Linked DNA regions of Homo sapiens. The protein of the gene in region 3 purifies or fractionates together with the protein of the main gene of each other region. This does not show direct contact. Each region holds a gene or a part of one and is shown on either strand. Other genes may lie near its edges.

Region 1 (3,652 bases), on a different chromosome or scaffold from region 3:
GCAATCTCAGCTCACTGCAAGGTCCACTTCCTGGGTTCAACCAATTCTCCTGCCTCGGCCTCCTGAGTAGCCAGGATTACAGGCGCGTGCCACCATACCTGGCTGGTTTTTTGTATTTTTAGTGGAGATGGGGTTTCACCATGTTGGTCAGGCTAGTCTCAAACTCCTGACCTCAGGTGATCTGCCGACCTCCGCCTCCCAAAGTGCTGGGATTACAGGCATGAGCCACCGTGCCCAGCCTAAAAGTGAATTTTTTTTTTTTTTTTTTTTTTTGAGACAGAGTCTTGCTCTGTCACTCAGGCTGGAGTGCAGTGGCGTGATCTTGGCTCACTGCCACCTCTGCCTCCCGGGTTCAAGTGATTCTTCTGCATCAGCCTCCCGAGTAGCTGGGACTACAGGCGTGTGCCATCACACACCTGGCTAATTTTTGTGTTTTTAGTAGAGACAAAGTTTCACGATATTGGCCAGGATGGTCTTGAACTCCTGACCTCGTGATCCCCCCACCTCGGCCTCCCAAAGTGCAGGGATGGGCGTGAGCCACTGCGCCCGGCCTAAAAGTGAAATTTTTAAGAAATAATTTTACTTAATGTGGGAACTTTTTCATAATACAATAATTTTTACCCCAAAAAAAGCTGCAAAAGTGTTTTTACTTGGAATTTTCAGCAATTGGGGCATTTTATTTGTTTTTTTAGAGTCAGGGTCTTGCTATGTTGCCTAGGCTGGTCTCGAACTCCTGGGCTTACGAGCTCTTCCTGCCTCAGCCTCCTGAGTAGCTGGGACTACAGGCGAGCAATTTTTCTTTTGAAATCTTAGCAAAAAAAAAAAAAACTGGAAGGAAATATGCCAAAATATTGTCATGTATCCCTTAGAATGATGTAGCTATTTTTCTTTATAATTTTTTTCATAATTTTTTACATATATCAGTTACCTTACAATGAGAATAACAAGTCATAAAGTGAAAAAAGAATTAATTAATTAAAGGAGGCACCAATGGCTCATTTCAGCTTAAGCCCAAAAGACAAATACCTACAGTCTCATAAAGTTTCTCTAAAGGAGATATGTAGGGCCGGGCGCGGTGGGTCACATCTGTAATCCCAGCACTTTGGGAGGCCGAGCCAGGTGGATCACAAGGTCAGGAGTTTGAGACCAGCCTGGCCAACATGGCCCTGTCTCTACTAAAAATACAAAAATTAACCAGGCATGGTGGCAGGCGCCTGTAATCCCAGCTACTCGGGAGGCTGAGGCAGGAGAATCACTTGAACCCAGGAGGCAGAGGTTGCAGTGAGCCAAGATTGTGCTGTTGCACTCCAGCCTGGGCAACAAGAGCAAGACTCCGTCTCAAAATAAAAAAAAGAGATATGTAAATGTCAAGTTTTTGGCATGTTTTTTAAAAAAGCAATTAAATGTGATTGTGAGGAGAGAAAGGCAGTTATATAATTATGAGTAATAAGCTCTTGTGCTACAGACATTGATTGAGTTCAGCCCTAGCCATGTGCCAGGACTGAGCCAAGTTATGACTTAACATATTTACTTCATTTAATCCTCACAACAACCCCTTGAGTTTGGACTTTTTTTTTTTTTTTTTTTTTTTTTTTTTGAGATAGTCTCACTCTATCGCCCAGGCTGGAGTGCAGTGGTGCAATCTCAGTTTACTGCAACCTCCACCTCCTGAGTTCAAGTGATTCTTGTGCCTCAGCCACCTGAGTAGCTGGAATTACAGATACGCACCACCACACCCAGCTAATTTTTCTATTTTTAGTAGAAATGGGGGTTTGCTACATTGGCCGGGCTGTCTCGAACTCCTGGCTTCAAGTGATCTGCTTGCGTTGGCCTCCCAGAGTGCTGGGATTATAGGCATGAGTCACTGCACCTGGCCAGGCAATTTTTTATCTCCATTTTATAGCTGAAGAAACTAAGGCTCAGTGATTTGCCCAAGATAGCACAGCCAGAGTGGGTGCTCAATAGTTATTGCAGTGGCTGGGCTCAGAGGCTCAGGCTCACATCTATAATCCCAGCACTTTGGGAAGCCAAGGCAGACAGATTGCTGAGCCCAGGAGTTCAAGACCAGCCTGGGCAACGTGGTGAAACCCCATCTCTACTAAAAATCAAAAAAATTAGCCAGGCATGGTGGCGCAAGCATGTAGTGTTAGCTGCTTCAGAGGCAGAGGTGGGAGGATCAGCTTGAGCCCGAGGAGGTCAAGGCTACAGTGAACCTTGATCACACCACTGCACTCCAGCCTGGGCCGCAGAGCAAGACCCTGTCTCAAAAAAAAAAAAGTAATTAAAAAAAACATGTTAAAATAATTTTAAAAATAGCACAAGAATGAATAGTTCTCCCCTGAATGTGAGATGTTAATCAATTGTTTGATATGCCTCCCCCTCTCTAATTCTTCTAGTGTTTGCAGTGAAGCTCTTGCCTATTTCATCACTGTGAATTCTGAGAGCCATCGGGAGGCCTGGACAAGTCTCTTGTTGTTACTTCTAACTAAAACCCTCAAAATAAATGATGAAAAGGTATGAACAAGTAAACTCTGACCAATTTTCACTAGGACATAAAGTTTGGGTTGGCTTTTTACTCAAGAGTTTGCAGTAACTATTTTCTCAGTTCTCCCAAGGATGGTTACGTGACTAGCACCATTCTAGATGCATTGGAGAGAAGTTAATCCGTTATGGACAATGGGTGCCACAGGATATTAGGGCTTTTTGCCTGGAAGAACAGTAGTTGAGAACGGCTGAAGTGTAGACCTCATGTGTTGCTGTTAGGAATGGTATGGTGAGTTTCAGTGCAGGAAGAGAGGGTTAAGATTGTGAAGCACCAGTTTTGACCTAGGAACCTGCTTTACAAAATAAAAGAGCTGTTGACTTTTGGCAGCAAGACTATCCAAATTTAATTAAAGTTAAATATAACTGAAAGAAGCTTTAATTTGCAAGGTTTCTTCAACTTCTTTTTTTTTTTTTGAGACAGAGTCTTGGTCTGTCACACAGGCTGGAATGCAGTGACGTAATCTAGCTCACTGCAATTTCTGCCTCCCAGGCTCAAGCGATCCTCCCACCTCAGCCTCCTGAGTAGCTGGGACCACAGACACGCGCCACTATGCCCAGCTAAGTTTTTGTATTTTTGGTAGAGACAGGGTTTCACCGTGTTGCCTAGGCTGGTCTCGATCTCCTGAGCTCAAGCGATCCACCTGCCTCGGCCTCCCCAAGTGCTGGGATTATAGGCGTGAATCACTGCGCTCGGCCCCAACTTTCTAATAGCAAGAAAAGCACCAATATTGTAATAAGTTCCAGGGTGAGATTAACACTTCTGAAAAACTGGTGCCCAAAAAAAAAAAAAATTGTCTAATTTTATCTGTTTCTCTCCCACCTCAAGTTCAAAGCACATGCTTCAATGTACTACCCCTACTTGTGTGAAATTATGCAGTTTGACCTGATCCCTGAGCTCCGAGCAGTTCTGCGGAAGTTCTTCCTACGGATAGGTGTTGTGTATAAGATATGGATACCAGAAGAGCCATCACAGGTACCAGCAGCACTGTCACCAGTGTGGTAGCCCTGGCTGCCCAGGCCAGTGCTGCAGCTCTGCAGAATGTTCAGCATGCCATTTCTGACTGGCACATCTCGTGAAGTTTCATAGAAACAAGGAGTTGGCATCTTG
Region 2 (3,652 bases), on a different chromosome or scaffold from region 3:
ATTTGGCCTTTTAAATATCTAATAATAAGAAAGAGATAATAAAAAGGATAATTTAAAATACCTGCACAAATCCTCGTCAGTGTCTGAATAACCATCCATTTGTGATCAAATGAGCTGGTAGAAGTTTCCAAAATGTATAAGAAAATTTCTTTAAAGAACACCTGTGATTAGGAGAAAACTTCTGTTTAAAATATTGTTTAGAATTCATATGTGTGATCACTTTTTAAACATCCCAGAGCTATAGAGCAGGTATTAGGACCCAGGCTCTTATGGAGTTCAACTCCTTTTGAGTTCCATCTCTGAATCCTCAGGACTAAAATATCTTGGGTAAGTGACTTAAACTTGCCCTTCTAGTTATCAGTACTGCAATTCACATTGATGTGTTTTGTTCTCAACACAGCTGCTACAAAAGAAATATGCAAAGATTTAGAGTTCCTCTAGGTGATAATTTCTTTAACATTTTTACAGAATATAACTTACGCTTTTTTAATCCCCCTCCAAAAGCGTAATTTATACTTCTGTTCATCAGTTATATTTTTCAGAGACGTTCTAGTACTGAGAGGCCTAACTGTTCGTAGATTTAAATGTAACTGATACTCTAATCAACACAATAAAAACAATCTAAGTCTCATACGGTTTTATTTTTCTAATTACTCACAAAAGTGAAAATCTCTACTGTTTGAAAACTACATATGAACTATTTCTCACTACTCTTTACACCAAATAATCAAGCAGTGAGTTAATCAACCTAATGAGATAAATTTCAATTTAACAGATAAGAATTTTCAGATTTAAATGTATTCTATAAAAGTGACTTTAAGAAGGAATGACTGAAACAACCAACATATTAACATTTATGAAACATATGCATTATGAACCCAGAAAATCACATTTATAGTATCTCCCCCTAACTGGATTAGGTACCCCTGTAATGTGATTTTCTTTCACAAAACTCAGCATATTTCTATTTACTTGTTTAATATCAGTATCTCCTATAGACTGTAAGCTTGAAGACAGTAATGACCAGGTCTTTCTTGATAAAGATCACGTCCATATTGCAGGGCACATAGTAGGTGTTCAATAAATACTTATGGCAACATGGCCACAATTCCCAAAAACTGCATCAAAGTACCCCAGAATGCTGTAGCAAACTCATGAGGGTGCCCTGAAAAAATTCTGAGGCAAAATTCAGAGGGAGATACATCTGTTGGATACCTCAAAAGATTGCTCATGGTTTCAAATAAATCACACTACATTCCCTTCAATGACATAATTATCTCCGCAAAGCTGGGTTTTGGTAGTTGCTATGATAAAAAACCAAGTACTGAATGAAAATCAATGAAGTACAGGAATGAGGGGGACAGTATTCAATTCCAAGATCTAAGAAGCTGTGTGCAGTTTCTAATAGGCACACGCATCCCAGTGGTAAGTAATTGCGGTAAAGAATAAAATAAAAACATTATTTTTCTTTTACTTTATGCATACTATTGTCTTTGAAATACATAGTAGGCTGTGAAGACAAATATCCATTAAGTTGTTTGGCCCTGCCTGCTTAATAAATAGAACATAGAACTGGAGGTATTCCTCTGGCCAAAGTGCAACTTTCATGAAAAGTCAGACTTGTGAATCAAAAACTTTTGGGATCCTCTGATTGACAAAATAAATAATATAGACTGGAAGAGAGAGGGAAGAAAAAATTTTAGCTACTATCAATGGTTTATCAAATTGCACTAATAAGCAAAAGTCTATTGCTGTAATATAAGATATTATGCCTATCATAATAGGGGCTCTAAAAAAATCAACCTTTTAATAATTTATCGAGGACCTATAATGTATGTATGTGGAACAACAGCTATATCTTAAGTATGCTGTCTTCACATATGTTCTCCTGAAAAGTTGTACATAAACTGTATCTTCTGGAATAGATATATAATTTAAGACCCATGAAAAAATCACATCACAGAAACTCTGAAGTGAATATTCTCATAAAATGAATCTTCATGTAAAAACAATCTTAATTTTGTTTTGCAAATTTAGGTTTTCATAGCTGGGCTTTCTCCACGTTCAGCTTTTTTTTTTTTTTTTTTTGAGATGGAGTTTCGCTCTTGTTGACCAGGCTGGAGTGCAATGGCGCGATCTTAGCTCACTGCAACCTCGGCCTCCCAGGTTCAAGCGATTGTCCTGCCTCTGCTCCCAAGTAGCTGGGATTACAGGCATGCACCACCACACCCGGCTAATTTTGTATTTTTAGTAGAGATGGGGTTTCTCCATGTTGGTCAGGCTAGTCTCGAACTCCTGACCTCAGGTGATCCACCCGCCTCGGCCTCCCAAAGTGCTGGGATTACAGGTGTGAGCCACTGTGCCCGGTGCTCAACTCATTTATAATTTGAGTGTGTATAACATTTTTGAAAGTATATCTATATTTATCTCATTTTACCCTCATTATCGCCCCCTGAGGGACAATAAGGAGTGAAATAAACCTAATTTTTAAAAATTAGAATATTATAATAATTTTGTAATGAGAATCTGACATCTACAAATTGACAAGAAATTTCTTAAAGTTTTTCCTTTCAAATTCATTTTTGCAAAGTTGAATTTGCTGTGCAAAAATAGTAATCTCAACTTAAATAATTTTTGATATCTAGATCTAAGAATTTATATTTTACTGTCGGTAAACAGTACCTACAGAAGCAGAATCTCAGTGTCCAAAAAAATCTGTAATTGGTTACATAAAGTATTACAAAATTTTCTAATGCCAACTTAAATGTCTCATCATCAGATGAAAGACTTCTGGTTTTTTACAAAAGCAAAAGTTCTAAAAGTTTTTTTAACTGTCTTTTATTTATAGTTCCTACAGATAATGGGGAAAAACTATCTAAAAACGGCAACTCTTCCTAGTTAAACGCCTTGTATTATCTTAACAGACATATGGCAAACTCTTAAAACTTGACATCATACATCATATAGGCACCAAAAATGGTTTCCTGTCCAAAAATATGGCCCAAATTAAAAAGCTTTTCACTTAAAATACCAAGGCCTAATTCTGTTTCATTCTCATAACAATGCTCTAAATCAATCTTGATAGCTATTACAGAACATTAACATTAAAGGATAATATGACTATTTTAGCCATTTCGAAATTCTGGAAAAATAATTTATCCTTTCTAACAAGCTAGTGAATTATGAGTCTTGAGTTAGGATTAAATATAAAATTAACAAAAATTAAAATATAACCTGTATATCAAACATAATATGAAGGTAAAAACTGACAACATAAAAATGAGTATTTCAAAACCATACAACATCACAACCAAAACAACATTTCAACAAATAACAAATTGAAAAAAGCATTCATTAAATTGGTAAAACATAAAGTACTATTTTTAAGTTTTATTTGAAGATGAAAACAAAAAATCAGAAACTGGTACACCTTAAAAAAAAAAAAAAAAAAAACCACATAAAGCTGGGCGCAGTGGCTCACACCTATGCTCCCAGCACTTTGGGAGGCGGACGCGGACAGATCACCTGAGGTCGGGAGTTTGAGACCAACCTGACCAACATGGAGAAACCCTGTCTCTACTAAAAATACAAAATTAGCCAGGCGTGGTGGCACATGCCTATAATCCCAGCTACTCGGGAAGCTAAGGCAGGA
Region 3 (3,652 bases):
GAGCTGATTCCCATCTACCTACCGGGCAGCCTCTCTCTGGACCTCCCCCAGGCACTATACCCTCCTCTTGGTCTGACCCGGGACTCTCACCTTCATCCCAAAGCCCATCTTCCCCCTGTTATGCCTCCATCCCCACCCTTGGCCTAAGCCAGAAAACTGGGAGTCACTCTGAGCTCCTCTCTTGCAACCAGCAGGAGATTACCACGTCCCACAGATCCCATCCTCAGAGATACCTCACCAACCCATTCCCTCCAAGATCCCCACACCACTCCCCAGTCTAAACATTAAGCAGGATAAAATCTAAATTCTAGGCCATCCCTGAGCTGGGCCTGCTGCCTCCCAGCCCATGTCGTGCCTTCCTGCCCTGCCTTCTCCCTCCGCAGCACTCACATGCCCATTCCTGCGGGCTTATTGAGCCGCTTTCAGTTCCCTAAAGCGCTCACTCTGCTCTTTTGTGCCATCACTTCTGGCCTGTGTCCCTAAGGCCATTTCTACCTGGCATTGCCACCTTCCTTGACTCCTCCCCACCCAGGCACAATGAGGACCTGAAGGCACCGACATCCCTCCTTTACAGCCCCATTCAGCGCGGCACTCTCTGTTCATCTTTCTGCCTCCCTCAATACTCTGGGTCTCCCTGAGGGCCAGGGCTAAGTGTCATCATCTCTAAGCTCTCTGTGCCCAGCACCAAGGCTGGCCCAAAGCAGGCACTCAGGAAATGTTGGCAGAAGGGAGAGTCGCATCAGCTGGGCCCTGAGCTCTTTCATTCCCTTATTCAAGTGCAAAGAAACAAGAATTTGGCCGGCTGTGGTGGTGCACGCCTGTAATCCCAGCAAATTGGGAGGCTGAAGCAGGTGTATTACGATGTCAAGAGTTCGAGACAAGCCTGACCAACATGGTGAAACCCCGTCTCTACTAAGAATACAAAAATCAGCCGAGCATGGTGGCAGGTGCCTGTGATCCCAGATACTCAGGAAGCTGAGGCAGAAGAATTCCTTGAACCTGGGAGGCAGAGGTTGCAGTGAGCTGAGAGCACACCACTGCACTCCAGCGTGGGCGACAGAGCAAGACTCCTTCTTGAAAAAAGAAAAAAAGAAAAGAAGCAAGAATTTGTATTTTGGGCAAATGTGTGCCCTTGTGAACAATACCTCACCCCCCGGGCCCTGTTTGCCTCCCTTTTATTTTATTTATTTATTTTTTTATTTTTATTTTTATTTTTATTTTTGAGACAGAGTCTCGCTCTGCCGCCCAGGCTGGAGTGCAGTGGCACAATTTCGGCTCACTGCAAGCTCCGCCTCCCGGGTTCATGCCATTCTCCTGCATCAGCCTCCTGAGTAGCTGGGACTATAGGTGCACGCTGCCATGCCCGGCTAATTTTTTGTATTTTTAGTAGAGATGGGGTTTCACCGTGTTAGCCAGGATGGTCTCGATCTCCTGACCTTGTGATCCGCCCACCTCGGCCTCCCAAAGTGCTGGGATTACAGGTGTGAGCCACTGCGCTCAGCGCCTCCATTTTATTTATTTATTTTTTTTGAGACAGAGTCTAGCTCTGTCACCCAGGCTGGAGTGCAGTGGCATGATCTTGGCTCACTGCAGCCTCTGCCTCCCTGGTTCAAGTGATTCTCGTGCCTCAGTCTCCCTAGTAGCTGGGATTACAGGCGTGCACCACCACAGCTGGCTAATTTTCATATTTTTAGCAGAGACAGGGTTTCACCATGTCGCCCAGGCTGGTCTTCAACTCCTGACCTCAAGTGACCTGCCCGCCTCAGCCTCCCAAAGTGCTGGGATTACAGGTGTGAGCAGCCGAGTTCGGCCTGCCTCCATTTTAAGCTACAGGGGCAGCGACTCCTTCCCCACCCCACTGCAGGGCCACGCGGAGGGCAAGGGCAAGATTGGAGACCCTGCAGGCTACCTCGTTGGCGTCGATGCCGCTGTTGACGGCCCACGTGGTCTGGAAGTATTCGAGCATGCGCTGCTTGAGCGGCCGCGGCAGGCGGTGCACACGGATGAAGTCCTTGAGGTCCTTCATGCGGCTGTGGTAGAGCGAGCGGCGCGAGTACATGCGCTGGATGATGGCTGTCACGTTCCCGAACACCACAGCGTGCATCAGGGCTGCAGCAGCAGCAGCGGGCCTGTCAGGGGCGGCCACCCCTCTGGCCACCTCCCCAGCTCCCAAACCCACCCTGTCCTGGACCAAGAGCCAGCGGGCTCCTGTGTGCCTACCAGGTGCCAGGCACTAGACTAAGGGTGGGGAATAGGGAGTGGTCCAGAGATGGGTAACACCCCATGCTCCTCTCAGGCCTCCCCACCATTAGGTCATGAACCTGGGTTTCCCATCCCCTTTGCAAAAGTCCACGCCTGTTTGTGGCATCCCCAGGGCCAGCACATAGTGGGCACTCAGGAAACGTCCGTGAATGAATGCGTGACTGTCTGGACTTGGGTAGACACCTCGGGCAGATGTCTTGCCCTCTCTGGGCCTCAGTTTCCCCGTGCATGCTGGGCTTCGCAGGGCCCCACTGAGGCGTGGCAGGTCTGGCCTCACCGCCTATGAGCATCGTGCAGATGGAGAAGATCTTCTCCGCGTCGGTGTTGGCACACACGTTGCCAAAGCCCACACTGGTGAGGCTGCTTAGAGTGAAGTACAGTGCCGCGATGTAGGCGCTGCGCCGTGATGGGCCGCCCACCGAGCCATTGACATAGGGCACCTCCAGACGCTTGCCCAACTCATGCAACCAGCCTGCAGGGTGGACGGATGCAGGGAGCCCTGGCTGTGCCAGCGGTGGAGAACCAGGGTTCCCTGAGCCACCTACGCTTGACCTTCGGCAAGTATTTATACACAGGTTGGCACAGGAAATGTGGGGAGTGGCCTGGGCCTGTGTCTCCCCATGGTGCATTGGTTACAGTTGCATTCCAAGGCCGCCAACTAACTACATTGCTGAGTGTTCAAAGGCTCCTGAAACTTTCTAATAGTTTATTGTGCACCTGCTGTATACAAAGTGTTGGGGAATTGACCCAGCCAAACACTCTCCCTGCCCTGGTGGAACCTATAGCCTGGAGGGGAAAGAGACATGACATAAATCATTACAGGTGGGAGGTGAGCTCCTGGAAGGAAAGTATTGTATAGGGTGTGTTAGGAATCCTAACAGGTTAGGGAAAGCCAACCCATTGGCAGTTGGGGGTTCTGGACATGGTGCCTGGAAGGCATGCTCCTTAGGACAGGACATTTTGGTTGAGACACATGGAACCGAAGGAACATTGTTCCAAGTGAGGCAGGGAACGGAAAATCCATCTAGGTGGAGAGGGAAGACAAAAGAGGAGGATTCCAGAGAGGAAAAGAACATGTTCCAGGCCCAGCATGAGAAAGCAGTATGTCCTGGGTCCAGGGGAGAGGCTGGTGTGGCTGCAGCGCAGGGAGCACGGGAGAACGGGAAGGCAGGTGGGGAGAGAAGGGGCACAGGGCCGCCCAGGGTGTGCAGTGAGTGTGGACTTCATTTGGAGGGCAGTGGGAAGCCACTGAAGGAATCCCAGAAGGAGTGTAGTGGGTCAACGTTGAATCCTGGAACACCCATTTGGCTGTGGTGAGGATGGTGGTTGTGGGGGGGATGAGAAGGGGATTGGGAAATCAGTAGGGAGGCTATTGCACAGGCCTGGGTGA

Evidence for each region.
Region 1: the proteins of KCNH4 (region 3) and ARFGEF2 purify together in Homo sapiens (affinity purification with mass spectrometry; one large-scale study listed by BioGRID and IntAct). This does not show direct contact.
Region 2: the proteins of KCNH4 (region 3) and ARFGEF1 purify together in Homo sapiens (affinity purification with mass spectrometry; one large-scale study listed by BioGRID and IntAct). This does not show direct contact.

Annotation. Positions count from the first base shown.
Region 1 is NC_000020.11:49,029,653-49,033,304, forward strand, and holds part of ARFGEF2 (brefeldin A-inhibited guanine nucleotide-exchange protein 2), read left to right. Parts: intron 1-2,396; coding exon 2,397-2,514; intron 2,515-3,370; coding exon 3,371-3,547; 3' UTR 3,548-3,652. UniProt on the Homo sapiens protein: Promotes guanine-nucleotide exchange on ARF1 and ARF3 and to a lower extent on ARF5 and ARF6. Promotes the activation of ARF1/ARF5/ARF6 through replacement of GDP with GTP. Involved in the regulation of Golgi vesicular transport.
Region 2 is NC_000008.11:67,267,282-67,270,933, forward strand, and holds part of ARFGEF1 (brefeldin A-inhibited guanine nucleotide-exchange protein 1), read right to left. Parts: intron 162-3,652; coding exon 62-161; intron 1-61. UniProt on the Homo sapiens protein: Promotes guanine-nucleotide exchange on ARF1 and ARF3. Promotes the activation of ARF1/ARF3 through replacement of GDP with GTP. Involved in vesicular trafficking.
Region 3 is NC_000017.11:42,167,568-42,171,219, forward strand, and holds part of KCNH4 (voltage-gated delayed rectifier potassium channel KCNH4), read right to left. Parts: intron 2,735-3,652; coding exon 2,540-2,734; intron 2,110-2,539; coding exon 1,910-2,109; intron 1-1,909. UniProt on the Homo sapiens protein: Pore-forming (alpha) subunit of a voltage-gated delayed rectifier. Activates at more negative voltages, exhibits fast prepulse-independent activation kinetics and deactivates much more slowly, but shows no inactivation.